2 separate regions of the Homo sapiens genome follow, and region 2 is linked to region 1. Evidence: fine-mapped QTL for protein levels in blood plasma. A gene starts in region 1. The other region holds a variant in brackets. All regions are shown on one strand. Distances are from middle to middle. Region 1 holds the start of NUB1 (negative regulator of ubiquitin like proteins 1). Region 2 overlaps NUB1 (negative regulator of ubiquitin like proteins 1).

What was found. A credible set is the group of variants that fine-mapping cannot tell apart. PIP is the posterior inclusion probability: the model's chance that the variant is causal. Protein levels are from antibody-based Olink assays in UK Biobank. Linkage for the fine-mapping came from a reference panel and not from the study's own genotypes, which makes the PIPs less certain.
Region 2: its variant is the best candidate, but not a certain one, in a credible set for the plasma level of the NUB1 protein (UK Biobank, PIP 0.60).

The regions. Positions count from the first base shown.
Region 1 is chr7:151,337,056-151,349,480 of GRCh38, reverse strand. NUB1 (negative regulator of ubiquitin like proteins 1) reads right to left here and starts at 7,669. Exons shown (of 15, transcript NM_001243351.2): 1 at 7,635-7,669; 2 at 4,015-4,133; 3 at 241-408. The coding sequence starts at 4,131. RefSeq lists silencers at 7,400-7,579, 7,750-7,949 and enhancers at 7,547-8,048, 9,118-9,207, 9,338-9,397.
Region 2 is chr7:151,351,347-151,366,791 of GRCh38, reverse strand. It overlaps NUB1 (negative regulator of ubiquitin like proteins 1), which reads right to left. Exons shown (of 15, transcript NM_001243351.2): 4 at 15,310-15,368; 5 at 13,910-13,980; 6 at 10,842-11,024; 7 at 10,570-10,664; 8 at 6,545-6,651. Among named protein-coding and RNA genes, the nearest start is that of NUB1, 17 kb to the right of the region's middle. The variant GT/T (reference allele first, on the strand shown) is at 6,481.

The DNA of each region.
Region 1 (12,425 bases):
AATGTGACATACAGCTCTGTGGCATTTTAGAAGCCCAAGAGGGTCTCTAAAAGCCTACCTTGGGAATGTTCCAGTTTAAGAATTTGTAACATTGACTTTCAAGCTGATAAATTGTTCAATATGTAAAGTCACTTAAAAGAATTCTGACTTTGGATTGTAACTTTCCAAACAACAACAATTTATTTGACCTCATCACTAACTGGACATTAGTGCCTACTCAAATTTAGGGAAATTACTCACTTTTTTTAGTCTTGGTGGTAAAAACACCTCGATTGTAGCAATTCCCGTTGTTCTATAATTGTCATTTCCTGTTCCACGCTCAATTGCCTTGCAACGTATTTCTTCTATTACCTTTTCTACTTCATTTTCACAGCATTCTAGTCTGTCAGAGTACTGCTTAGCAAGGTCCTATCAAGAAAAATCAGAAAATGCAATACTGACTTAAAAAAAAAAAGGCAAAATATAGAAAAGGGCATGAAAGACTCTAAGGCCATCAACTCTGATGAGTGGAGGTCGCCCCGTTACACTGCAGTCCACACTGTGGTTTGACATCTTGAGAGGTGTGGAGTTTAGAGAGGCCAGGAAAAAGTGAAAACACTTATTTGAGACTGGGCGCGGTGGCTCATGCCTGTAATCCCAGCACTTTGGGAGGCCGAGGCAGGCGCATCACTTGAGGTGATGAGTTTGGGACCAGCCTGGCCAACATGGTGAAACCCCATAACTACTTAAATACAAAAATTAGCTGGGCATGGTGGCGTGTGCCTGTAGGCCCAGCTACTTGGGGGGCTGAGGCAGGAGAATCGCTTGAACCCAGGAGGCAGAGGCTGCAGTGAGCCAAGATTGTGCCACTGTACTCCACCCTGGGTGACAGAGCAAGACTCCGCCTCAAAAAAAAAAAAAAAAAAAAAAAAGCAAAAAGCAAAAAACAAAAACATTTATTTGATAAATGTTTTCTACCTACAAATAGTAAAATAATAATAATAATAGAGAATCTTCTAAGGAGAAGAAAAGGGTGGGCTATGACTTATGTGACTGTGATCTATTTAAAAAGTATAATGAACTGTTCAACTCCACTGGAAGGGAAAATGAAAAAAAAACCCAGAAAATATTCCAATTTTTCAAACTTGTGAGAACAAATCAAGTTGGACTTAAACAATTCTCTTAATGAAAATCTGTGAATCATGGGTACTAGTTGTAAAACTATTTGTAAGGGAGAGCTTTAGAATTGAGAAAAAAAAGAAGATTGAAAGGGCTCAAGAAAGGATGGGAACCAGTTATTACTGAGAGCAAAGTCATTATGGTTCCTCCCCAAAAAAATCCAGATGAGTATCTCTAATCTAAAAATCTGAAATCGCCAAAATTCAGCATCTGGAGATGCTCAAAGGAAATGCACACTGAAGTATTTTGAATTTTGAATTTTCAGATTAGGATGCCCAACTAGTAGGTATAAAGCAAACATTCCAAAATCCAAACACACTTCCAGTCCCAAATATTTCAGTTACGGGATACTCCTCTCAATCTGTATCTGCATGTGAGGTTAATGTTTCATTAAACATCTCATAAAACAGTAAACACTTCAAAAAACCCTAAAGGTCAAGGTTTCATTAAATTCATAATGTAATACCATGTAGTACGTAAAAATTATGGTGTAAGCATAAATTTATGACAGAAGAGATGTTCATGATAAAAGTGAAGTTGGAAAACTTTATAGATATGAGTATAGATTGGGCGCGATGGCTCATGCCTGTAATCCCAGCACTTTGGAAGGCAAGGTGAGAGGATTGCTCAAGCCCAGGACTTCAAGACCAACCTGGGCAACAAAGTGAAACCCCGTCTCTACAAAAACTAAAAATATATTAGCCAGGCATGGTGGCATGCACCTGTAGTCCCAGCTACTCCCAAGGCTGAGGTGGGAGAATCACTTGAGCCCAGGAGTGTGAGGCTGCAATGAACTATGGCCATGCCATTGCACTCCAGCCTGGGCAACAGATCAAGACCTTGTCTCAAAAAAAAAGGAAAAAAAATTTTGTAAGTAACATAAACCTATATATACTTTTTTTTTCTTTTAGAGACGGGGTCTCACTACGTTGCCCAGGCTGGAGTGCAGTGGCTATTCACAGGTGGGACCATAGCATACTACAGTCTCCAACTCCCGGGTTCAAGTGATCCTCCTGCCTTAGCCTCCTGAGTAGCTGGGACTACAGGCATGCGCCACTGTGTCCAGCAATACATTTTTTTAATAGTTACGTAGGAAAAGAGGAAGAATATACCTATGTTAACGATGTTTAACATATTTTAAAAATACATTCTTTATATTTTTGTATTTATATACATACTTTTTAAAACCTAGAATATATATTATAAATACTTTTTTAAAAACTTTCTATAATTTTCTAGAAAACCTAACTAGTGAGGATTTCTTTCTTCCTCCTGTCACCAGCCAATTCTGACACCAACTGGAAGTCCTACGATTCAATTCTGACACTAACTACCCAGAGTTAGCGTTAGACTCCACAGGTTTAAGGGCTCAGCCCACAAAAAAGCCCTAACTTCAGATACCAGTTACCAAGTATCTGGTCCCCAGGTTACCCATACTTTTGTCTGACTTAGCTACAAAGTCGAGGGTTCACACAAGCACCCCCTTCAGGTTCCATGATTTGCTAGAACAACTCACAGAACTCCAGAAAATGGTATACTTATGAATATAGTTCATTACAAAGGATACAAATAACCATTCACATGAAGAGGTACTAAGGCAAGGTCTGGAAGGGTCCTGAGCATAGAAGCCTCTGTCCCATGGAGTTGGGGGTGTACATCCCGACATGTGGATGTGTTCACCAATTTGGAAGCTGTCCAAAATCTGTCACTTAGGGGTTTGTATGGAAGTTTCATTATGCAGGCCTGATTAAATCACTGACCATTAGTATTAGTCATCAGCTCAATCTCCCCTTCCCAGAGGTTGGAGGGGAGGGTGGAAAGTTTCAAGTGTCTAATCACGGCTTGGTACTTTTGGTGACCAGCCCCATCCTGAAGCTATCTAGGGGCAACCAAGCCTCATGAGCACAAAGGTTGCTCCTATCATGCTTACCACTTAGGAAATCCCAAGAGTTTTGGCTCTGCCAGGAACCAGGGACAAAGGTCAAATATTTTTCCTTTATGCCACACCTAGTTTCTAAACCAAGAGACTGTAACAATAAATTCAGAAGCAAGGTCAGAAGGTGGGTTGCAAAGAAAAAGTGAGGCCTGCCTGGAACAGAAGAAACAGAAGAACTAGGACCCTAATACAGTTTGTCACCTCCCAAGCACATCATTATGTCACAACACAGAGCAATTTAATGCCTCATGACAATCCTTAGTCCCTGATAAATGTTACATCATGTTCAGGATACTCTGAATGAGAGCAGAGAAGTACATGCTAGGAAATTCCAGTATGATAGATTTCTGGCAAAAATGAGTACTGTTTCTCTGCTTAGAAAAGCAAGCAGACTTCAGTTTCTAGAAACATCACTTACATACAATATCATTTCTGATGATGCCATGAAAAACTGAGATACAACTGTTAGAAAAAACCTATTTTGGAAAAATGAACACTGATAGTGAGAGCATCAAAAAAACTGGGGGAAAAAGGAGCAATTGTTTCACAGCAGATGATGATAGCAAGGAGGACCGAGAATGAGCCAAGACACTGTCACTTTGAACACACAATGCAATTACTTACTGGCACCAATACTGTTCCACTAATGGGTCAAAATGAGTTCCAGATAAATAATGTTATGTAATCCTGTGATGGTATTAAAAATATATGCCTGAAAAATTAGATAACATCCTCATGTGAATAAAATATTAATGAACAAAAATAAGGTTGTCAGTTCCTAGTAAAAAGTGGGTACCCGCTCACCACTAATGCTTTTGGTTATGCCAAAAGTTTATATGGTCATGCCTGACAATTCAGAATCTTATTTACCAAGGAGATTTATAATGCTGCTAATTATTGATGTCTTAAAAGAAAAATACCTTTAATGCCAAACCAACTTTTTTATTTTCATCTGTATATGGAGGTTTCCAAAGTTGAATCCTGTCTTCCCTTAAAAACTGGGTCAATTTTGCTTGAAGATATTTCTTTTGTGCCATCCCTGAAAGCAAAACAATACATTAATAAAACTCCACATCGCATTTTAAAATGTTAATAACTTACCTACATGTTAAGGTGCTTTGTTGGGTAAGCAAAGCTCCCTTCCTCTGTCATTAAATATAAATTACTATGGTTTAAATGAGCTCCAGACTTCTCTAAAAATATATATAGAAATATATGTTCAATTATATATATTACATATATAAAATATGTATTTCAAAGTTGCTAATATGTAGCAAGGATTATTACATGTTTCTATTTCTTAATCTGCTATTCTCTTATCTAAGAGAAAAGAGAAAATAAGAGAAAGATAAATCCCTCGAGTCGTGAACTTCTTTTTTTCTTTTTTGAGACGGAGTCTCGCTCTGTCGCCCAGGCTGGAGTGCAGTGGTGCGATCTCGGCTCACTGCAAGCTCCGCCCCCTGGGTTCAAGCAATTCCCCTGCATCAGCCTCCCTACTCACTGGGATTACAGGCATGCGCCACCACGCCCGGCTAATTTTCATATTTTTAGTAGAGACGGGGTTTCGCCATGTTGGCCAGGCTGGTCTCGAATTCCTGACCTCAAGTGATCCACCCACCTTGGTCTCAAAACGCTGGGATTACAGGCGTGAGCTTGTAAATTCTCTCATACTTTGGCTAGTTTAACATAAAACAAAAGGCCAACCATCCTGGTAGTTAAATATAAAGAAAAGCTTGCTTGAACTGTAAACTATCGATAATAAATATTTTCGGATGGGTGTGGTGGCTCAGGCCTGTAACCCCAGCACTTTGGGAGGCTGAGTTCAGGAGCTGAGGTCAGGAGTTCGAGACCAGCCTGGTCAACATGGTGAAGCCCTATCTCTACTAAAAAAAAAAAAATATATGAACAATTAGCCGGGCGTGGTGGCAGGTACCTGTAATCCCAGCTACTCGGGAGACTGAGGCAGGAGAATCGCTTGAATCCAGGAGGCAGAGGTTGTAGTGAGCCGAGATGGCACCACTGCACTCCAGCCTGGGCAACAGAGTGAGACTCCGTCTCAAAATAATAATAAATATATAAATATTTTCTATGTCAGAATTTTTTAAATTAAAAAGATTACAATACTAGGAAAATTTTGCATATTTTCTGATTAACAGCCTAACAGCACATCTACTTTTTTTTTTTTTTTTTTTTTTTTTTTTTTTTTGAGAGGGAGTCTCACTCTGTCGCCCAGGCTAGAGTGCAGTGGTACAATCTCGGCTCACTGCAAGCTCCGCCTCCCGGGTTCACGCCATTCTCCTGCCTCAGCCTCCCCAGTAGCTGGGACTACAGGCGCCCGCCACCACGCCCGGCTGATTTTTTGTATTTTTAGTAGAGATGGGGTTTCACCGTGTTGGCCAGGATGGTCTCAATCTCCTGACCTTGTGATCCGCCCGCCTCGGCCTCCCAAAGTGCTGGGATTACAGGCCTGAGCCACCGCGCCTGGCCCTACTATTCAAATCTAACACTGATCGGATCATTTTACAGCTGAGAAAATTAGGGCCCTGAGTTTGTACCATGACTCAGGCAAAGACACAAAATTAGGCAGCATCTTAACGAGCACAACTTCCACCCACAACACTGGACTCTGAACTTCCGTCATGGAGTCCCTTGCTGCTTGCCTGTTCCAGGTATGTAACTTCTCTCTCCCAGAGAAGTATGTACCGCGATGGAGCTGTCTACTCATCCCATACTAGCACAGCAATTCAAAGGTGAGTGAGGCGGCTGAGATGTAAGGCAGCTGGCAGGTGTAGCACAGCGCTTTAAGGTTTCCCAAATCAGACAAGCAATAAGTAAAGAAAAATGTTATTAGCCCCTGAATGATGAAGACAAGTTCTAGAGAGTGGAAAAAATATGAGTTAATATTACCAAGATAAATTTCTTTCTTCTATTGAGGGCCAGTATTCCACATCCCCCCAAACCCAATTCACACAACTTTGAAATCTTTGAAAACTTTGGTAGCTTGTGTATTTCATAAACAAATATTTTTTAAAAGAAAGTTCAAATCTATTTTATGTCAGTGCGGGGACAAGAATTAGGCTAATCAGGACAGGGAGGAGAAAAGAGAGGAAGGAATAACACAGCCAATGAGGCTGCTGTGTGCAACCTGGGTGGCCCATGGGAGAATCCTCCATTTTTCAAGCACTGACAAACGGCTTATCACAGCAAAGCATATTAGTACTTAGAGCGTTAGCTTTTCAAACACAAATAACTTTAAAAACTACTTTACATACTACTCATGAATCTTCAGAAATTCTGAATAAAATATCACAGCAACCCTACTGTCTCCCCACTGGGGGACAGTAATTTCACAGGCTGGTTACTGGAGCCAAGCAATTTGAAAGGCTGATGCGGTACTCAGAGATGCCATCCAAGGCCGGGCGCGGTGGCTCACACCTGTAATCCCAGCACTTGGGAGGCCGAGGCCAGTGGATCACCTGAGGTCAGGAGTTCAAGACCAGCCTGGTCAACATGGTGAAACCCCGTCTCTACTAAAAAAATAAACAAATAAAAAATTTTTAAAAAGATGCCATCCAAGCCACCACTTGACAGAAGGACGAAGGAGTGTTACAAACCCAGTGCGTGTCAGACACTCCAGGGAGCAAACAAGAGCTCCAGGGTTACACCGAATAAGATTTAATGTTAAAAAAAAATTAAACCACTGTCTTGAAACTTAAGGAACTTCAGTTATAGACAACAGAGTAAGTGGCGACATATTTTAAGTCAAGTTTAATAAGTCAGTTTTTAATTTTAACTGAAATGAGAACTGAAAAAGTTTCATGCATGCCATACAATGTTTCACATTGTAACTAAGAAAAGACGAAACTCATTAATATCACTCCGTGGTCCAAGCAGAAAGTGAAACGTTATAACGATCCTTTAAAAATTTCACTTTCACTTTTGTAATGAATCGATCATTGCTACATTTAGCCACACCTTTTCAAGTATACATTATATATAGTTGAAACACAACTATATCTAGTCAAGACACATTCATTTTTTCTTAGGAAAATGAAAGATTCTTGATTAAAAATAAAAGGGAAGGAGGTGAGAATGATAGAATCAGGTCGTCAAGGTTCGAGAAAATCAAGTGTCTTGTCATTAAATAGCAAAGAAAATCTGGCTTTGATTGCAAATAAATCCCAAATGGTATACTCGGAGTGTTACGATTCAAGTATAGCATTTGGCTAATTTTTTATAGACATATTTATTCCTTTCTCTCCCCAAACCGATACACTCAATATTTTCTTTTAAATACCCCACACCTCTGCCTAACTCAGGGCAAACCAAAGGGCCCCGAACGGCCAGCGCGTCCCGAAGCCCGGCCCACCGCTCCCGGCCCCGGCCCCGGCCCCGGCCCAGCTCCACGCATGGCTGCTCACCCCCGCCCCGCGGCCGCTCCACCCCTGGCCAGGAGAGGTGCCCAGTCGGACCGGGAACCGGGGCGCCAAGCAGTGCTGCTGAGGCTGGGGTCGAGGACACTCGGCCGCCGTGTCCTCACCTGCGCCACGCCACTCCCGCCGCGACCAGCAGAGTGCCCGGATGCGGCAGCGGCCGCCGTTTGTTTTCATTCCGGGTGAGGCCAGCCCCGCCCCCGCCGCCGCTGTCGCCTTCGCGCCGCCGCCGCCGCCGCCGCTTGGAAAGAGGGTTGTGGGCGGGGCCAAGGCGAAGCCAGCTGTGGGCGGGGATACGGTTGTGTGGGCGTGGTTACCGCGGGGCGGAGCCGCGACGGGGCGGAGCTAAGCGGAGGCGGGGCTGGGCGAGGATGTGGCCGTGTGGGGCGAGGACCTGGGAGTTGGTGTCCAACGCCACCCCAGGCTCAGTCTTCCAGGACTTCCCGCCCGGGCTCAGTTTGCCAGCCATCAAGAGGAAATGGATCCTGGCTTTGTTTCTCCAGAATCCTTGAAAGAGGCTGGGGGAAGGGTCGGGACCGTCCCAACCCGCATCTCATTCCTCAGCCTAGGCTGGACCCCTTCCCTAAACCAGCGGCTTTTCACCCCGCCCTCCACAAGCCCACCAGGGGCTTCCCTGGGGTGAAATTAGGCTGCTTCCCGGGAATTTCCTCCCCCATGCTGTCCACGGCCACTAGGGACCACAAGGCCTAGGGAGCTCTGCCTACTTCCAAGGTCCTATTCCCAAGGCTGTGCTCAACAGTGACGCTTCTATTTTATTATCAGTTATTGCTGTTAATCTCTTACTGTGCCTAATAAATTAAACTTTATCGTAGGTATGTACGTATGTATAGGAAAAATGAAGTGTGTGTATATATATAGTATATATATATGTGTGTGTATGTAAAATGGGGTGCAGTACTATCCGAGGTTTCAGGCATCCACTGTGGGTCTTGGGACACACCACCTGTGTGTGGACGAGAGGGGACTCCTGTAACCTTGCAGTGACCAATCCGTTTTTCGTTCCCTGTTGCTGCTTTCTTTAGCCCTTTTCTACCTATAAAGCCCACCTCCTCTGCCCAGCTCGTTGGAGCACCGTTTCTAAATTTTCAGAGAAGATGCCATCCTGATTCATGAATCAATAAAAACCAATAGATCTTTAATCTAAATTTGTGGTAATTTTGACTTCTGACAAAGGGATATTAATAACTGTATAACCGCACCAGACCAATCTGATTCGCCTTTTATATACCCAAGTTGTGAGTTGTTTTTCAGTTGCATGGACTCCCAGATGGAAGGTTTCGCACGTAACCTGAGGATGCCCAGGTGAACCAAGCATGCAACCAGGGGCGGAACCTGAGTGCTCAGATCAAAGCAGGGACTGAATTAAGAAATGGGCACTGCATGGTGAGATCCAGAATGCAATCAGATCAAGCCCTGGTGTCACCCCATGGCAGGGTCCAGTCAGATGAGCATCCCAGCATCACCTCATCGCAAAATCTAATCCGATCATGCGTCATTACCCTATGCTTATAAAACCCAACCCAGCCCCAAGCTCAAGGAGACAGAGCTGAGGGTTTCCTCATGTCTCCTTGACAGTCAACTCACAATAAAGCCTTTCTTTTCTCAAAAGCCCGTGCCATGGTGTTGGCTTCTAGCACATCAGGAAAAAGCCCGTTGATTGCTCAGTAGCAATTGCAGCAAGGTAGAAGGACAACAGAAACTGTTCTGACATTTTTTTCTGAGGGCTTTCTCTGAGATGAGTAACAAAGATAGTTTCACTTTTACATTTACGTAGTAGACCATCAGGAAATTGAATGTCCACGCTCAGGTGTGATGGAGCAGCTTGCAGTAGACCAAGGCTCCCACTAACAACAACTAGAAAAGCCAGAAAGCGAAGTCAGAAAACATCTGTTTGAAGGCAGTGAAAGCTGCTGAGGCAAGAATGGGGGGACTTGATATTCCAGAGAATGAGGAACCTTCAAGGGGTGAGCTAATGTCTGCAGTGGCTTGTATTGGTGTGTGAGGGCTTTTGCCAGTTCTGGATACAAGCATGAGGCTGAGAATTTAGACTTTGAGACCACAGAGGGCCACTGCTGGGGACACAAAACCAACACAGCGATGTAGGGGGAAATTCCAAGGACAATTGCTGAATTCAAGGCTTGTATGGGGCAAGAAACTGAAATGTAAATGGAAGGCCTCTGAAAGCAGAAGTTTTTGATAGACTTGCAAAACAAAGATTCGAGTCTGAGATCTGCTAGGGTGGTGGTGGAAGTGGGTTACTGCAGAGCCTACACCATGTTCCCAGTTGGAAACTGGAGGGCAACGGTAGCTTGAACCCTACCAGAACCTCAGCCCAGCCTTCACTCCATGCAGTCCCTGATTGGATTAAGGTTATTGGCCACTCCTGTCTTTGGTTTTGTGGAGGAAAGGGAAAAACCCTCCTGAGAGAATGATAACATTTGAAGCCTCTACAACTTTTTAGAAGCTATATTTGGCATCTCATTAAAAAGTTACTAGATAAAAAAAGAAAAAGACAATAGAAACAGACCCACAGATGAGTCAGATATTGGAGTTGCCTGATTAAAATAACTCTGATGAACATTTTCAAGAAAACAGAAAAAAAGATGAAAATTTTCACCTGAGTATTGAAATCTATAAAAATAAATCAAATGAAAACTCTAGAGGTGAAAAGTGTAATAAATGAGGCTGTGAACTCTGGATGTTAGACAAAACTAAAGACACGATTAGTGAACTGCAGGCACATCAATAGAAAATATCCAAACTGAAGCATAGAAGGAAAGAATGGAAAATACAGAAACAAGCATTAGAGACACATGGGACATGATGAAAAGTTCTACCAGGTATTCAGGTTTCTAGAAAAAGAGAGAAAGGGGCAGAAACAATATTTGAAAAGATAATAACCAAGAGTCCAAGTTTCGCAAAACTGATGAAAGACATCAAATTACAAATTCTGTAAGTTCTATGACTCCTAAGCAGGATAAATACAAAATCAGCCACACCCAGTGCATTCTAGTAGAACCATTGAAAACCAAGGAAAAAGATAAAATCTTAAAAGGTGCCAGGGCCAGGTACGGTGGCTCACGCTAGTAATCCCAGCACTTTGGGAGGCTGAGGCAGGTGGATCACCTGAGGTCAGGAGTTCGAGATGAGTTTGACGAATACGATGAAACCCCGTCTCTACTAAAAATACAAAACTTAGCTGGCTGTGGTGGAGGGCGCCTGTCATCCCAGCTACTTGGAAGGCCGAGGCAGGAGAATCGCTGGAACCTGGGAGATGCAGGTTGCAGTGAGCAAAGATTGCACCATTGCACTCCAGCCTGGGCAACAGATTGAGACTCCATCTCAAAAAAAAAAAAATTAATTTAATTTAATTAAACAAAAAAAAGGTGCCGGGGAAAAGATGCATTGCCTTTTAAGATTGTCAGCTGACTTCAGAAACAATAAATCCAGAAGACAATGGAATGGCATCTTTAATGTGCTAAAAGAAAATACACATGTTTAGTTCAACGTTCCTTAATATTTTAGGCAATAAGATTTATTGAGAACACAGAAATGGTGCAGACTTGTGCTTTTATCTTTGTCATGCATATGTGATGTCTTCTGGAATTAAGTTTAAAAAAGCAAAAGAAGTAAGTTATTCTGGCCTCCCATGGAGGTTTCTCAGATGGTAAGCCTACAGTGATGAGTAGCCACCTTCTTACTTCCAAGGTCACCTTAGTTTTTATTCACCCTTAAACTTAAAGTCACATGACTAATATTGTATATCGAATTCTTTTTAACATTAAAAGGGGTTAAAAAACAAACACGGATAAAACACAAACAGATGATCCTGAACTTAATTCAGTAGTACTAATACCACGGATTTATTTATTTATCATCTCTCTCCTTATTTTTTTATCTTGTTAGAGTAAGTGTATCACCTACCCAACTTTTTTTTTTTTTTTTGAGGCGGAGTCTTGCTCTGTCACCCAGGCTGGAGTGCAGTGGCACAATCTCAGCTCACTGCAAGCTCCGCCTTCCGGGTTCACGCCAATCTCCTGCCTCAGCCTCCCAAGTTGCTGGTACTACAGGCACCCACCACCATGCCCGGCTAATTTTTTGTATTTTTAGTAGAGGCGGGGTTTCACCATGTTAGCCAGGATGGTCTCGATCTCCTGACCTCGTCATCTGCCCGCCTTGGCCTCCCAAAGTGCTGGGATTACAGGTGTGAGCCACCGCGCCCAGCTGCACCTACCCAACTATTGAGACAAATGAACCTGGGTTAAAAAATTTGGACCAGAATATGTCAGAGATTCAAAACCAGAACACAAAATTTGAGGACTGATTACATGCTTCCAGAATGATTCTACCTGAATCACAGGTGAGAAGGCCAAGCCCTTTCTCACAGTGACTATGGCAACAGGAATTCATGACCTCCACTGAAATAAGGCATCCTAGCCCATGTTTCCTAGGAATCAGAGTAATCCTCCTATGCAATGACCTTGTAACTTCTTTTAGCTTCTATCATCTGTTTGGGTGATTGAAATTCTGGATTCCCAATCAGATGTGAACAACTTTTCCTCACCACTAACTTGATTTCTCTTTCTTCCATGTTCTTCATATCCAACTAAGATGCTGAATAAAATTACTATGTCTCCAAACAGCATGTTAAAAAATTATTTATGGGCTAGGAGCGGTGGCTCACGCCTGTAATCCCAGCACTTTGGGAGGCCAAGGTGGGCAGATCACGAGGTCAAGAGATTGAGACCATCCTGGCTAACATGGTGAAACCCTGTCTCTATTAAAATACAAAAATTAGCTGGGCGTGGTGGCGCATGCCTGTAGTCCCAGCTACTTGGGAGGCTGAGGCAGGAGAATCACTTGAACCCGGAGGCGGA
Region 2 (15,445 bases), 16 kb before region 1:
TTAGGAAGGGAGCTGTGTTTATAATCTCATCCTTCTAATGGGGGAAAGAAAGAGAAATCAGAAATCAGGGCTTAGGAATCAAAGCTTACCACCACTTGCCCCAGGACACACATGCAGCCCCTTGATAGGAAGCAGAACCCAGGGCCACTGTTTCAGAGGCCCTCAGCAAATACGGGGAAGACCATGCTTTAAAGCTGTGACTTCCAATCCTGACTGCAAATCAGCATCACCTGGGCCAGAGCAACGTTCTTTCTTTCTTTCTTTCTTTCTTTAAGAATCATTGATCCCACCCAGACCAAACATAACAGAAATTTCTGGGGGTTGGGCCTGGTGGTTATACTGCCAGAGTCTCCCCAGCTGATTCTAGTGTACAGCCAGGGCTGAACACCACTTCTTTAAAGACACCAAAAAAATCCCTACGTACTATGAATGCCTCAGCTGATGACGGCTCTGACAAGGCATTCATGTTCAATCATATTCAAGCTGGGGGAAAAACAATCCAGAAAGCACCAGGCTCTAACGGCCCAGCTGATTTCTGAGGGCCTGTGTGCAGGCAAAATTTGACTCCGTATTCGTGGCAGCAGGCTGAACCCAGGCGCAGCAAAGGGAAGAAAGACAGCAACAGAAGTCAGTGTGCTCCAGGAGGAGCACTGACAAAGACAGCCATCAAGGTGACTAATTTTAAGTTATGATTACATTAAAAATTCCTAATGCCAATCTAGGTCTCAAGTCTTCAATAAGAACATTTGGAACCACACATTGTATATGAACAAGGTTTTCTCTCTTTATGTTCATTGGTGTTCTACTAAAAATAAGAATGCTCTTGTATAAAACTACAAAATCCACATGGCCTCAAGCTTCCTGTCCTGCCTATCAAAATATGCATGGAATAAAAAAAAAAGGACTTTAATTTTGTCATTTACTCTTTAAAACAGTAGTCTCCTAAAGAGGGCCCATGTACACAGTCCAGTTGTGGGTGCGGCAAGAAAAATGTATCACAGCAGTATTTTTATATTTATTTTCATCTCTCTCAACATTTCTAATTTCGTGAATGTTTGAGAACACATACACCATGTTTTACACACGTGTGCACGCAGACACACAGATGTGGAGCTGGGTGAGGGGTGCTTTCTCCAAATCTACGGCTCAGCCTGAGAACCTGCCTTTGAGAGAAACAGCAGCGCTTTGTGGATTGTGGTCTGATCTCACAGTCGTGTTGAGATTTCCTGCCTCTAGGCACATTCTGGTCCCAGTGACAGAAGACTCTCCTGCCACTCGCAGGAAAGCAATGGGCATGTGGCCGAACTTCTCCATCTCCTGCATGTTGCTTTAACAGGCTCGTTCATGTTTTACTAAGCATCAAGAGCGTGGGCAGAAATGGCCTCATGTCAGTTAAAAATAAAATCAATATGCACTTATCTCAAGTTTGACCCAGGAGTGAGTATTTATTTGTGCAGCCAAAAAAAAAAAAAAGAGAGAGAAGAAAACCAACAAAATGAACAAACACACAAAAAACCCAAAGCAGAGGTCTCATATTAGAGGGGTACATGTCATCCTTTTAGTTTTGAGAAATCAACACTTATTATTATATATAAAACTATATTTAAACCTGATCATTTGCTTGGGGCAAAGTGGTTTCTTAAAGCCTGGTATAAATTGCATTTAGAAGGCTGGGTGTGGTGGCTCACACCTGTAATCTCAGCACTTTGGGAGGCCGAGGCAGGAAAATCACTTGAACCCAAGAGTTTGAGACCAGCCTGAACAACATAGAGACTCTGTCTCTAAAGAAAAAAAAAAAATTATAAAAATAAAAAATTTCATTTAGAGTGTACTTTTATTAACATTGCTTTGGTTTACAATTTTAGTAGCATTAATATTCAACACTGTTACATTTTCATGCTGACGATATTAAAATAAACGTAAAATATTTATTTAAATAAAATCTACTGAGCCTAGCTTTCAAAAAATTAAATCCTGGCCAGGCACAGTGGCTCACGCTTGTAATCCCAGCACTTTGGGAGGCCGAGGCGGGCAGATCACCTGAGGTCAGAGGGTCAAGACCAGCCTGGCCAACATGGTGAAACCCCATTTCTACAAAAATTAGCGGGGCATGATGGCGGGTGCCTGTAATCCCAGCTACTCGGGAGGCTGAGGTGGGAGAATTGCTTGAACCCAGGAGGCGGAGGTTGCAGTGAGCCGAGATCGTGCCATTGCACTCCAGCGTGGGCGACAGAGCGAGACTCCGTCTCAAAAACAACAACAACAAAAATTAAATCCCATTTGAGCTTAAGTCGGTTATTTAACAGAAATTTATTATGTTTGTCTTACAGTTTTTTTGTTTTTTTTTTTGTTTTTTTTTGTTTTTGTTTTTGAGACGGAGTCTCGCTCTCTCCTCCAGGCTGGAGTGCAGTGGTGCAATCTCGGCTCACTGCAAGCTTCGCCTCCCGGGTTCCTGCCATTCTCCTGCCTCAGCCTCTCAAGTAGCTGGGACTACAGGCGCCTGCCACCATGCCCGGCTAATTTTTTGTATTTTTAGTAGAGACGGGGTTTCGCCCTGTTAGCCAGGATGGTCTGATCTCCTGACCTCGTGATCTGCCTGCCTCGGCCTCCCATAGTGTTGGGATTACAGGCGTGAGCCACCGCGCCCGGCCAGGCTTACCTTTCTTGAAATTAATATTTATTTAACATAAAAATTTTAGGCCAGGCGCGGTGGCTCACACCTGTAATCCCAGCACTTTGGGAGGCTGAGGCGGACGGATCACCTGACGTCAGGAGTTCAAGACCATCCTGGCCAACATAGTGAAACCCCGTCTCTACTAAAAATACAAAAACTAGTCGGGAGTGGTAGTGGGCACCTGTAATCCCAGCTACTTGAGAGGCTGAGGCAGGAGAATCGCTTGAACCCAGGAGGCAGAGGTTACAGTGGGCGGAGATTGCAGTAAACTAAGATTGCGTCACTGCACTACAGCCTGGGCGACAGAGTGAGACTCCGTCTGAAAAAATAAAATAAAAAAATAAGCCAAACTTACCTAACTTTTTTCAAGAAAGGTTAGCTAAAAAGTCATTTTCAATTTTATTACTGGTTTTAGGGAATTGGATTATAGTGTGCTGTAGTGTAGTTTTTTTCTGATATTTCTTGTACTTGGGGTCATTAAAGTCATTGCATCTGGGGGTTTATAGTTTTCATCAAACTGGGAAAAATTAATGGCCATTTTTTTCTTCAAGTATTGTTTCTGTCCCACATGTCTGCCTTTCCAGGGACTCCAATTACATGCATTTTAGGCCGCCTGAAATTGTGCCACAGCTTGCAGATGCTCTGTTCATTTTTTTTTTTTTTTAGCCTTTTCTCTGTTTTTTCAGATAGTTTCTATTGCCTTATGTAACATTTAACTAATCTTCTCTTCTATAGTGTCTATTCTGCAGTTCATCCCACCTAATGTACTTTTCATCTTGGATGTTGTACTTTTCATCTCTTACATTCTAATGTGGGTCTTTTGAATGTCTCCCATGTCTTTATCTGACATGTTCAGTTGTTCCTCTGCCTTCTTCAGCAGATGGATTACAGTCACTGTTTTAATGTCCTTGTCTACTAATTCTATCTTCTGTGTCACTTCTGGATCTGTTGCTACTGACTGATTTTTTTGCTTGTTATAGGTTACATTTGCTTGTTTCTTTGCATGCCTGCTAATTTTTCAGTGGATGCTGGATATTTTTGAATTGCTAAATTATTGAGTTTTGTTAGGGATGCACTTATTTGAAAACGGTAAGTTAAGGGTACTGTTCAGGAGTAGCTTTTAAGCTTTGTTAAGTGAAACCAAATTATGCCCTAGTGCTGAGGCAACACCCTTCTGAAGACTCTATTTGACGCCCTGTGACTACCAAATCCTCCACTCTGGCTGGTGGGAACATAAACTATTCCTGGCCTTCTATGAACTCGGAGGATTATTCCCTGCTTCTTTCATGTGGTACCTTGCCCAGCCCTGGGCGGTTTCCTCACACACATGTGCTGATCATTACTGAGCAGAAGACTCAAAAGGGCTCCTCTGAAGCTCTCTGACACCCTCTCTCTGGCAGCTTGCTCCTCTCACCTCCTTGGCCTCCTGCAAGCCCAGCTCCATCTCTTTAACTCCAGGGAGCACAAGGCTCTGCCTGGGTTTGCCCTCCCTGCCCCGTAACCTGAAACTTCTCCAGACACTGAGCTCCCCTCATGTTTCCCTACCTCAGGGTCACCGTTCTGCACTGCCAGGAAGTCACTGTTTCATACAATTTGGGGAAAGAAACTATTCTTGGTCATACTACATACCATACTCCAAGACATATGGTAGGAAGTTGTGACAAAACTTCTAGCTTACTTGGAGAAGTAAGGGGGAAAAGTCAAATGGAAAAGGAAATGGAAAAACTGAAGTTTCCTCCATCTGCATTCTATTTGGCTTACATTACTGCTGATTTCCTTTATGAAAAGAGAGAAATCACACACACACAAAAATATGCTAACAAGTTGGCCAGGATAAATAGATGCCCAGGATAAATAGATGCCCAGGAAAAAAAAAACTTTCTCTACTTAGAAAGACATTGTTAATTATTATTTCATTATTATACCTACCACTTACCGGACATGTTAATGTATCATGAACTGAAGATGTAGCCAAATTTGTATTCAATGGTTCCCTGAGACCTAAAAATTATTTCAAGGATTTGTCCAGGATAAAAAGATTGAGGGAGGCTCACACAGATGTATGAAGATCAACCATGTCTTTATAACTGCAGAAGCTTAGTTATGAGTGTATATGGAAGCTCATTATACTAATTTTTATTTTTATGACTATTTGAAATTTTCCATAATAAAAAATTAGAAACAACTATGGAAGGGAATGAAAAATTTACCTAAACTTTTAGGACCTAATTTAAAGCCTGTTTACCCTACACTGTTTGCAGAAGAGAATGAAACTGACATCCAGAAAGAGGCAGAGACAGAGACCCCAGAAGCACAAACCAGCCCTCATTCTCACTATTCCCAGCCCGGCCCCTCCCCTCCCAATTCCTTTTTTGTGTACGTTAAAGTTGGGACTTGTTCACTTAGAACCCAAAGGCACTGACCAATGGAAAACTATAAATATTTGCATTCATCTTCTGGGAGTATACAGTATTATCTTGGGAATGCACCAAAACAGAAAAGAAGTTAACACTAAATTTGTTAACTTTTGACCATTTTCAAAAAATCAAGTCTACTTTTCAAATGTTGAATATGTCTGCATCATAGTCTCTTAGTACCGTTTCCCATGAAGAGGAACCAGGACTCCTTGGGAAATTGCTGATTCCTGGTCTGGGCATTAAATGCCCAAGATGAGCCTGGAGTATCTTTGGATTCCAGAAATCAGAGACTGCAAAGACTAGCAGGGTCAGGTCAAAAAAACATGGGCTGCCTGCCAGCCAGCATGACCAATTTAAGCACTGAAGTTTGAAACACATCAAATGTTTTAAATCCATGAGTTAATAATGACACTTAAGAAAATGAAAAGAAAAAGAAACCTCTTTGGTCACCTTTGGAGGGTGATAGTGAAGCAACTCATTTATTCTGAAAACAAGAAAATAAGGAGAAAGAAACAAAGTATTTTATTCTAACTTTCCTATACAAATTGTACCTCCACATATAAAATAACTGATGAGCAAAAACAAATTTTTCAGAATTCCAGCAATAAATGCAGAAGGGAGGCTGGGTGCGGTGGCTCACACCTGTAATCCCAGCACTTTGGGAGGCCAAGGCAGGAGGATCACATGAGTCCAGGAGTTCAAGATCAGCCTGAGCAACACAGGGAGACCCCATCTGTATAATTAAAAAAAAAAAAAAAAAAAAAAAGCCGACACAGCGACTCACACCTGTAATACCAGCACTTTGAGAGGCTGTGGTGGGTGGATCACTTGAGCCCAGGAGTTTGAGACTAGTATGGGCAACATAGTGAAACCTCATCTCTACAACAAATACAAAAAAATTATCTGGGCATGGTGATGTGCACCTGTGGTGATGTGCACCTGTGATCCCAGCTACTTAGGAGGCTGAGGTGGGAGGATCACTTGAGCCCAGGAGATGGAAGTTGCAGTGAGCTGAGATCATGCCACTGCATTCCAGCCTGGGTGACAGAGTGAGACTCTGTCTCAAAAAAAATAAGTACAGAAGGAATAATATCACCATTATACAGCTCTTAAACAACGGATTTGAGGAATAATCATCAATACTACCCCAAAACCATTAGGTGAAAAGCTGACAGGAAACTTTATAATGGAAAGTTCCGACTAGCAACATAGCACATGTACAGAAGAAGAGAGGATATCCTACCTGCTTGAAAATTCTTTTCTTTACAGGGAGGAAAGGTCAATTAGAAATACAAAGGGAAGAAGAAATTCACCAGTTTACACCATAACTACTCTTTTACATTAACCACTGTTGTAGATGAAAGTCTGCAGTCTCAAGGGCATGGCAGG[GT/T]GTTCTGTATAGTCTGGGCCATCTTCCTTAAAGCTGGTGTTCACCAAGTACAAAAGCGCCTACCAGAAATATTTGTCAGCGTCCAACAGACATGGCAAGGCTATTCCATATTCTTTTCTTTTCAGGAAAGCTCTGCCCTTCTCATGATATCCCATAGCTAACATAAGGGCCTAGGAAAAAATACAAATTTAAAAAACATCACTTTAAAATATAATAAGGCAAATTATATTAAAAGCATATTACTTTTTAAAAAACAAAGTAAAAAAAATGAAAACAAGATCATAACTCAATCTAAAAGCCAAAATTAAGAAAAATATAATTAATTAAAGCTTTATTTCATTTAAATACTGAAGCCAAACACTTCATTTATTATAGCTGATACAATCCTAACCAGCACTTGGCCCTTTGCTTTCATTAGTTTATTTTCGTATCCACTGATCTGGATTCTACTTCTAATATTCTATTCAGACTAAACATATTAAAAAGCAGCCAGTAATGCTTGTATCATTTTTATTTTATTTATTTTATTTTTTTGAGACGGAGTCTCATTCTGTCGTCCAGGCTGGAGGGCAGTGGTGCGATCTCGGGTCACTGCAACCTCTGCCTCCTGGGTTCAAGCGATTCTCCTGCCTCAGCCTGCCGAGCAGCTAGGACTACAGGCATGAGCCACCATGCCCGGCTAATTTCGTATTTTTAGTAGAGATGGGGTTTCACCATGTTGGCCAGGCTGGTCTCAAACTCCCGACCTCAGGTGATGTGCCGCCTTGGCCTCCCAAAATGCTGGGATTACAGGCGTGAGCCACGGTGCCCGGCTGCTTGTATCTTTAAAAAGGGCATTCATTTCACTTTCTATTCTTTTTTTTTTTTTGAGACAGAGTCTCGCTCTGTCACCCAGGCTGGAGTGCAGTGGCGCGATCTCGACTCACTGCAAGCTCCACCTCCCAGGTTCACACCATTCTCCTGCCTCAGCCTCCCAAGTAGCTGGGACTACAGGTACCCACCACCACGCCTGGCTAATTTTTTTTTTTGTATTTTTAGTAGAGACAGGGTTTCACCGTGTTAGCCAGGATGGTCTCGATCTTCTGACCTCGTGATCTGCCCGCCTCGGCCTCCCAAAGTGCTGGGATTACAGGCATGAGCCACCGTGCCCGGCCTCACTTTCTATTCTTAATCATCTAGTTTTTTCAGAAGTTGTTTGTCAACTTTAGTATTTCCAAAACAAATTTTTTTATTTTATTTTTTTTTTGAGACAGAGTCTCGCTCTGTCTTCCAGGCTGGAGTGCAGTGGCGCGATCTCGGCTCACTGCAACCTCTGCCTCCCGAGTTCACGCCATTCTTCCACCTCAGCCTCCCGAGTACCTGGGACTACAGGCGCCCACCACCACGCCTGGCTAATTTTTTTGTATTTTTAGTAGAGATGGGGTTTCATTGTGTTAGCCAGGATGGTCTCGATCTCCTGATCTTGTGATCCACCCACCTCGGCCTCCCAAAGTGCTGGGATTACAGGCGTGAGCCACCGCGCCCGGCCCCAAAACAATTTTTAAAAGGTGATCCAAAATTTTTTGAAGTTCATTAGATTTTTCAATTTAAATGTTCGCATAATTCAGTCTGATAAAGCAGTAGTCCCAACCTTTTGGCACTAGGGACTGCTTTCATGGAAGACAATTTTTCCATGGACAAGGAGGAAGGCAGATGGTTTCAGGGTGAAAACATTCTACCTCAGGTCATCAGGCATTAGATTCTCATCAGGAGTGCACAGCCTAGATCCCTCACATGCCCAGTTCACAATAGGGTTCATGCTCCTAAGACTCTAATGCCGCCGCTGATCTGACAGGAGGTGGAGCTCAGGCGGTGACGCTCACTTGCCTGCTGCTCACCTGCTATGTGGCCCAGTTCCTAACAAGCCACGGACTGGTACCCATCTGCAGCCTGTGGGGTGGGAACCCCTGTGATAAAGGTTTTCCAAAAAGATCTGGATGTCGTCATTCAATGTAAGAGAGCAGTGGGCAAGTAATCATCATTTTCAAAAGACAAACATTGGCCGGGCACAGTGGCTCACACCTGTAATCCCAGCACTTTGGGAGGCCGAGGCAGGCGGATCACGAGGTCAAGAGATTGAGACCATCTGGCCAACATGGTGAAACCCCGTCTCTACTAAAAATACAAAAATTAGCTGGGCATGGTGGCGTGCACTGTAGTCCCAGCTACTCAGGAGGCTGAGGCAGGAGAATCGCTGGAACCCGGGAGGCGGAGGTTGCAGTGAGCCAAGATTGTGCCACTGCACTCTAGCCTGATGACAGAGCGAGACTCCGCCTCACACACACACAAAAAAAGACAAACATCAATCTACTGATAACTCAAACACTGATCCACAGTTCTGTTATGAAAACAACTTTAATCCGGCCGGGCGCAGTGGCTCATGCCTGTAATCCCAGCACTTTGGGAGGCCGAGGTGGGTGGATCACCTGAGGTCAGGAGTTCAAGAACAGTCTGGCCAACATGGCGAAACCCCGTCTCTACTAAAAATACAAAAATTAGCCAGGCATGGTGGGGCACACCTGTACTCCCAGCTACTTGGGAGGCTGAGGCAGGAGAATTGCTTGAACCAGGGAGGCGAAGGCTGCAGTGAGCTGAGATCGCACCACTGCACTCCAGCCTGGGCAACAGAGTAAGACTCCTTTTCAAGAAAAAAAAAAAAAAAACTTTAATCTTTAATTTTAAACAGAGTAACTCATAGAATGAAGCCTACTCAAAACCATCCCTTAAAAACAGAAAAATTAAAATTAATTTGACCCATAGTCATTCATTATAAGAAGCTACTGAACCCTTTCTCAGAGATTGATCTTAGAGTCCAAGTTCCAGAATGCTGCTATAGAGGCCCCCAAGGGGCTGGGTGCAGTGGCTCACACCTGTAATCCCAGAACTTCGGGAGGCCGAGGCGGGCGGATCATCTGAGGTCAGGAGTTCAAGACCAGCCTGGTCAACATAGCAAAACCCTGTCTCCACTAAAAATACAAAAGTTAGCCAGGCATGGTGGTGCGTGCCTATAATCCCAGCTACCCAGGAGGCTGAAGCAGGAGAATGGCAACAGAGCGAGACTCCATCTCAAAAAAAAAAAAAAAAAAAATTAGCTGGACATGGTGGTGTGTACCTGCAGTCCCAGCTACCCAGAAGGCGGAGGCGGGAGGATCGCTCAAGCCCAGGAGGTTAAGGCTGCAGTGAGCTATGATGGTGCCACTGTACTCCAGCCTGGGTGACAGGGCAAGACCCTGTGTCTTAAAAAAACAAAAACACGGCAGAGTTCGGTGGCTCACGCCTGTAATCCCAGCAGTTTGGGAGGCCAAGGTGGGCAAATCACCTGAGGTCGGGAGTTCAAGACTAGCCTGACCAACATGGAGAAACCCTGTCTCTACTAAAAATACAAAATTAGCCATCCGTGGTGGCACATGCCTGTAATCCCAGCTACTCAGGAGGCTGAGGCAGGAGAATCACTTGAACCCAGGAGGCGGAGGTTGCAGTGAGCTGAGACTGAGCCATTGCACTCCAGCCTGAGCAACAAGAGCAAAACTCCGTCTCAAAAACAAAAAAACAAACAAAAAACCCACAGATATGTTTAAGATTAAACCTCCGCCTACCTATCCCAAATTATAGAACAGGGAAAGAGTATGAGGAAATAGGGAAGAGAAGTCAGAATCACCTGTGGACTTTTCCCAAACGACACAGTTTCCCTACCCCTATTCTGATCCATCCCTTAGGGGACAAGGTTCTCTAGTAAAATAAACTAAATGTAAAGCACTGCCACAGGAAGCTGCATGCACTGAAGGCAGTGGGTCGTGTCCTCAGGTATGTTGAAAGTCACTGCTCCAGGACAGTGAGACATGACATTTTGTACTAATGCGCTGAAAAGCACAGGGTGAGGCCCATTGGATGCCAGTGCTCACCACGTGGTGACATTTTCTGTTTACGAGGCTGGAGATGGAGCACTGTTTCCAACCCTTTACAACACTTCCAACATAAAGCAACTAAAAAACCACCTCTGCCCTGACAACAAATCTAAGAACAGGCCACACATTTCTCATAGTACTTACTTTTCTTTCTGATGGGGGAATTCTGATTGATCTGCCTGTCTGGTTAGCTATGTCTAAGTACGGTGTCATTTCTGGATCCACCACTGTCTCTGCTGCTGTAACAAAACCAAAAGGACCTCCATGAACTCAATGTTAAACAGTTATGATGATGACAGCCTTAAAAATGTTAGACTGTTGAGGTGAGACTCAGTGAGAGCCATGATCCCCCAACTGTGTGATCCAGTGCTGCCCCCAAGCAGCTGAGTGGGTGACAAGCCCAGAGCTCTGGGTACCTCTCTTTGCCAGTATTTCTAGTCCTCTCTTGGTCCTCTGAATTTGTTTTTCTTTGAGTTTGGCCTCATTTTGCTCCTCTTCCTCTAACTGGAAGTTTTTCCTCGCGTCCTCTTCAGATTGTTTTAGTTCAAGCACCATCGCTTTCACATTGTGAGCCACGCCTTGTTCTTCAAGGGTTTTCCCTATAAAAATCAGAACTGCCTATTATTTTAAAAAGCCATTAAGCTTACCAGGTAACAGTCCATTTTCTATGTTAAATGGAATTGTTTTTATTTTTGAGACAAGGTCTCACTCTGTCACCCAGGCTGGAGTGCAGTGACACGATCATGGCTCCCCACAGCCTTCATCTCCTGGGCTCAAGCAAGTCTTGCACCTCAGCCTCCCGAGGAGCTGGGACTACAGGCCCATGCCATCACACCCAGTTAATTTTTGTATTTTTCGCAGTGATGGAGTCTCACTATGTTGCCCAGCTTGTCTTGAACTCCTGGGCTCAAGTGATCCTCCCACCTCAGCCTCACAAAGTGCTGGGTTACAGACATCAGGCCTTGCTCCTGGACAAAATGGAATTCTTAATCCTGCATACCATCACGCCACATAATTGGTAAAAATATGCCTACATTTGGTTGTAACTATGTCACTGTTAAGCAGTGGTTAAAATCAGCTAGCGACAATAGAATCAACTAAATTCATCTTTTCTAATCTTCTTTATTCTCAGCCTAAGACCAGATCAAAGCAACAGATATTTGATAATCTACTACAGGGAGAACATTGTGCTAGACAATATAAACGGAAAATGAGAAAGTATAACACACCTCTCCTACCCTCTAGTTGAAAAAATAATAAAGCCAATTCACAGCTACAAACAAGAAGCTGTACTGCAGTCTGTCACGGTTAAAAGCAAAGACCAGCAGGGCGTGGTGGTTCACACCTGTAATCTCAGTACTTTGGCAGGCTGAGGCAGGTGGATCACTTGAGCCCCGGAGTTCAAGATCAGCCTGGGCAACACAGTGGACCCCGTCTCCACAGAAAATAAAACATTAGCCTGGCATGGTGGTATGCACCTGTGGTCCTAGCTACTCAGTGGGAAGCTGAGGTGGGAGGATTGCTTGCACCTGGGAGGTGGAGGCTGCAGTGAGCTGCAATCGCACACCACACTCCAGCCTGGGTGACAGATAGAGACCCTATCTCTAAATAAATAAATAAAAGCAAAGACCATGGGCTCCATCTACCGTTTTAACTCTGTGGCCCTGAATAAACTACCTATCTTCTAGGACTCAGTTTCCTCATACATAAATTAGAAATAAAGGGCAGAAATCAGTGAAACAGAATGAAAGAAAACAGTAACAAAATCAAAAGCTGGCTCCATGAATAAATTAGCCAAATACACAAATCTAACAAAAATTATGTCAAAGATGCAAATAAACAAAATAAAAAAGGGTAAACATAGATGCAAACAGATTTTAAAATAACAAATAATATTGTGAACTAAAAAACACAAATGTGAACACATTTCTGGAAAACTAGCTGGATTTTTTTCTTTTGAGAAATATGACAACCTTTCTAACATTAACACACAAAATAAAGGTCCACCAGTGGTTAAGCCATCTTGATTAAAAAAAAAAAAAAAGCAAGGGTGGGGGGAGGTCACCAGATTTTAAGACTGCAACAAAGCCACAGTAATAAAAAACACCACAGGTGAGTAGGAAGAACAGAAAATATAGGAACAGGGCCCCCCAAAAAGGGTCACCACCAATCAGCAGGGAAAAGACAGACTATTTAATGAATTATATAGGAAGAAAAATAAAGGAACCCTTAAACTTTATATAGAAAGGGGGACTCTGGACAGACTGAAGACCTCTTATAGATTAAGCTAATATTCAAGAAAATGTAGACTATCCTTGTGGCCCTGGGGTTAGGGAAAGGACTTCAACAAAACACAAACCATAGGCAATGGATTTGATGACATCAAAATCAAGGTTTCTGTCCAATGAAGGATGCCACAAACAGAATTAACAGAGGGATGAGGCAACAGTGAAAAGATATCCATGACATCTAAAATAGACAATGGGAAATTGCTAGAGATGACGCTGGAAAGCAAGGCTAGGGTGAGCTGTGAAGGGCTGTCTTAGATCAAGCTAAGAAATGTGGACTTCATTCTCGAGGCCACAGGAACGCACTGGAAACCAGTGGGCTACAGTGCTTGTATGGATGGCTGCAGTAGCTAACTGGTCTCCCCAAGTCAACTCATGCCACCTTCAAATACATTCCCCTACTGCGTGACCTTTCTAAAACACAAACAGAATTGTGTATCACTCCGCAGCACAGATGTCTTCCCATGTATCTTAGGAGAAATGTACTAACACTGAGGAAGGTCATCTAGTTTCTCGTTTCCCAACAGCTGCGCTACTGACATCTGGGACTGGACAAGTCTTTGTTGTGGGGCCTGTTCTGGGCATTGCACATTCAGCAGCATCCCTAGCCTCCACCCACTAAATGACAGCAGCACAACCTCCCCCGTCACCAAGTTATAAGCACCACAAATGTCTCCAGACAATGCCAAATGTCTCCTGGGAATTCACAGTGTGGCCTCTGCTTGCCCCTCCATCCTTAAAAAGCACTCCCCTCCCCTCATTCTCCACACACAGCCACACTGGACCTTCCTCAGTTCCTCAAATTCACACCATAGTGCTCTGACATAAGGCTCTCAGTCTGGAACGCACGCCACCATGGCCTCCCCACTGTCCTGACACAGCCTTAGCTCTTCTCCTTCAAGAAGAATTTGCTGGAACTGGCATCTTACACTCAGCACACCTTACATTCCATTCTCTAACATTTTATCTAAGCTGTAATGAGTGTCTTTCTTCCCACTATCATAGAACAGACAGTAAATATTTATTGGAAAAGCTATTTTCTGCTTTACATTTTTATTTTAGTAAACTTCTAAATCACTTTTGGATTATAAATGAAATAAAGCTACAAATTTTTGAAAAGACATTGAGAAAAAAAGGGAAGTCATTATTTCTATATTTGGTTCATTAAAAAATTATGCATACTTTGCCATACATACCTAGTTGTAGTTGCTTCTTATTTATGACAATTTTGATATAATTTTCTTGAAGTCCAAAGGTTTCAGCTATTCTGTAAAATAAAACCAGTGAAAATTGTAGGAAAACAAAATTGCGATTTATTATCCATTAAAAAGACATTAGCCAGGCCCGGTGGCTCACGCCTGTAATCCCAACACCCTGGGAGGCCAAGGTGGGAGGATGGCTTGAGCCCAGGAATTCAAGACCAGCCTGGGCAACAGAGAGATCCTATCTCTACAAAAAATTTTTAAAAATTAGCCAGGCCTGGTAGCCCATGCCTGTGGCCCTAGCTGCTTGGGAGGTTTGGGTAGGAGGATTGCTTGAACCGCGAGTTTGAGGTTGCAATGAGCTATATTTATGCCACTGTGCTTCAGCTTGGGTGACAGAGCAAGATCCTGTCTCTAAAAAATAAATATTTTTTAAAAGAAGGCTTTAATCATGATAGCTCTTTTATCCATTTTATCAGAAACACCCAGGATTTCAACTGACTGACTCACAAACATCACAATAAAGCCATCTTACTAGACGGCTATTTGAAACTGTAGGAGACAAGGTCCTTTTTAAACTTTCCGTTTTACTGCTTGTTTCCTCAGGCAGTGGAGACCACAGTGCTGTAGATCCATGTGAACAGGAAGCCCTAGTTGCACATCCGGAGAAAATCTACCTATACCTTCTGTGGTCTCCCTGGAGAAGCCCATAGCGGGGGCTGATCCACAGGGTCTTCTACGCATGTGTGTTGCATGCCACTTCCTGAATCCACCCCTGACAGCCCTGATGTAGACCAAAGAAGGAAATGAGAAAAATCAGCTGAAGAAATACACCCGCTAGCTAGCCCTGGAGGTGCTCCAAACACCATTTTAAAACATACAAGGAGATGAAATAACCCACCAGATCTCAAAGTTAGGATTTCACTAGTATGTGGCAAACGTGTGTGTGTGTGTGTGTGTTTTACAGATGGGCCAACAGCCTGAAATCAGATAAAACACCGTGCTGAAGGTCATAGCAAGCTATTAATACATTAGGGAAAAAAAATAGTAATTCAAAACTAATGAGCTAGTGAGTACCAGGTGTCTCCTGCTTGTATCACTCACTCATTCACTCAAACATGCACCAAGTGCCTACCATATGATAGGCATGGAGTTCCCACCTGCTCGGAAGTTACACCAGGAAATAGTGCTTGCAAGTCTTGAGTCCTCACTTTGCCACTTACCTACCAGTGACAGCTCTAATAAGTCCTTCAACCTCAAAGCCTCAATTTTCTCTTTTATAAAATGAAGATAATACCTGCCCTACCTATCTTAAGAGGACGCTCACAGAGGATCAAATAAGCCAATGTAAAAAGGCCCAGAGCACCTAGGACACAGAGCACACAGATACTTACTTGGACCTCAGTTCTCTGCCAGTGATGTGCAATCGGGTCTCCAACAAGTTTTTCCTATCCTGTTAAAAATAAGACAAAGTAAAACGTACTTGAATTTAACCCATTTTGGAGAGATTACCCTGTGAAATCAGAAAAG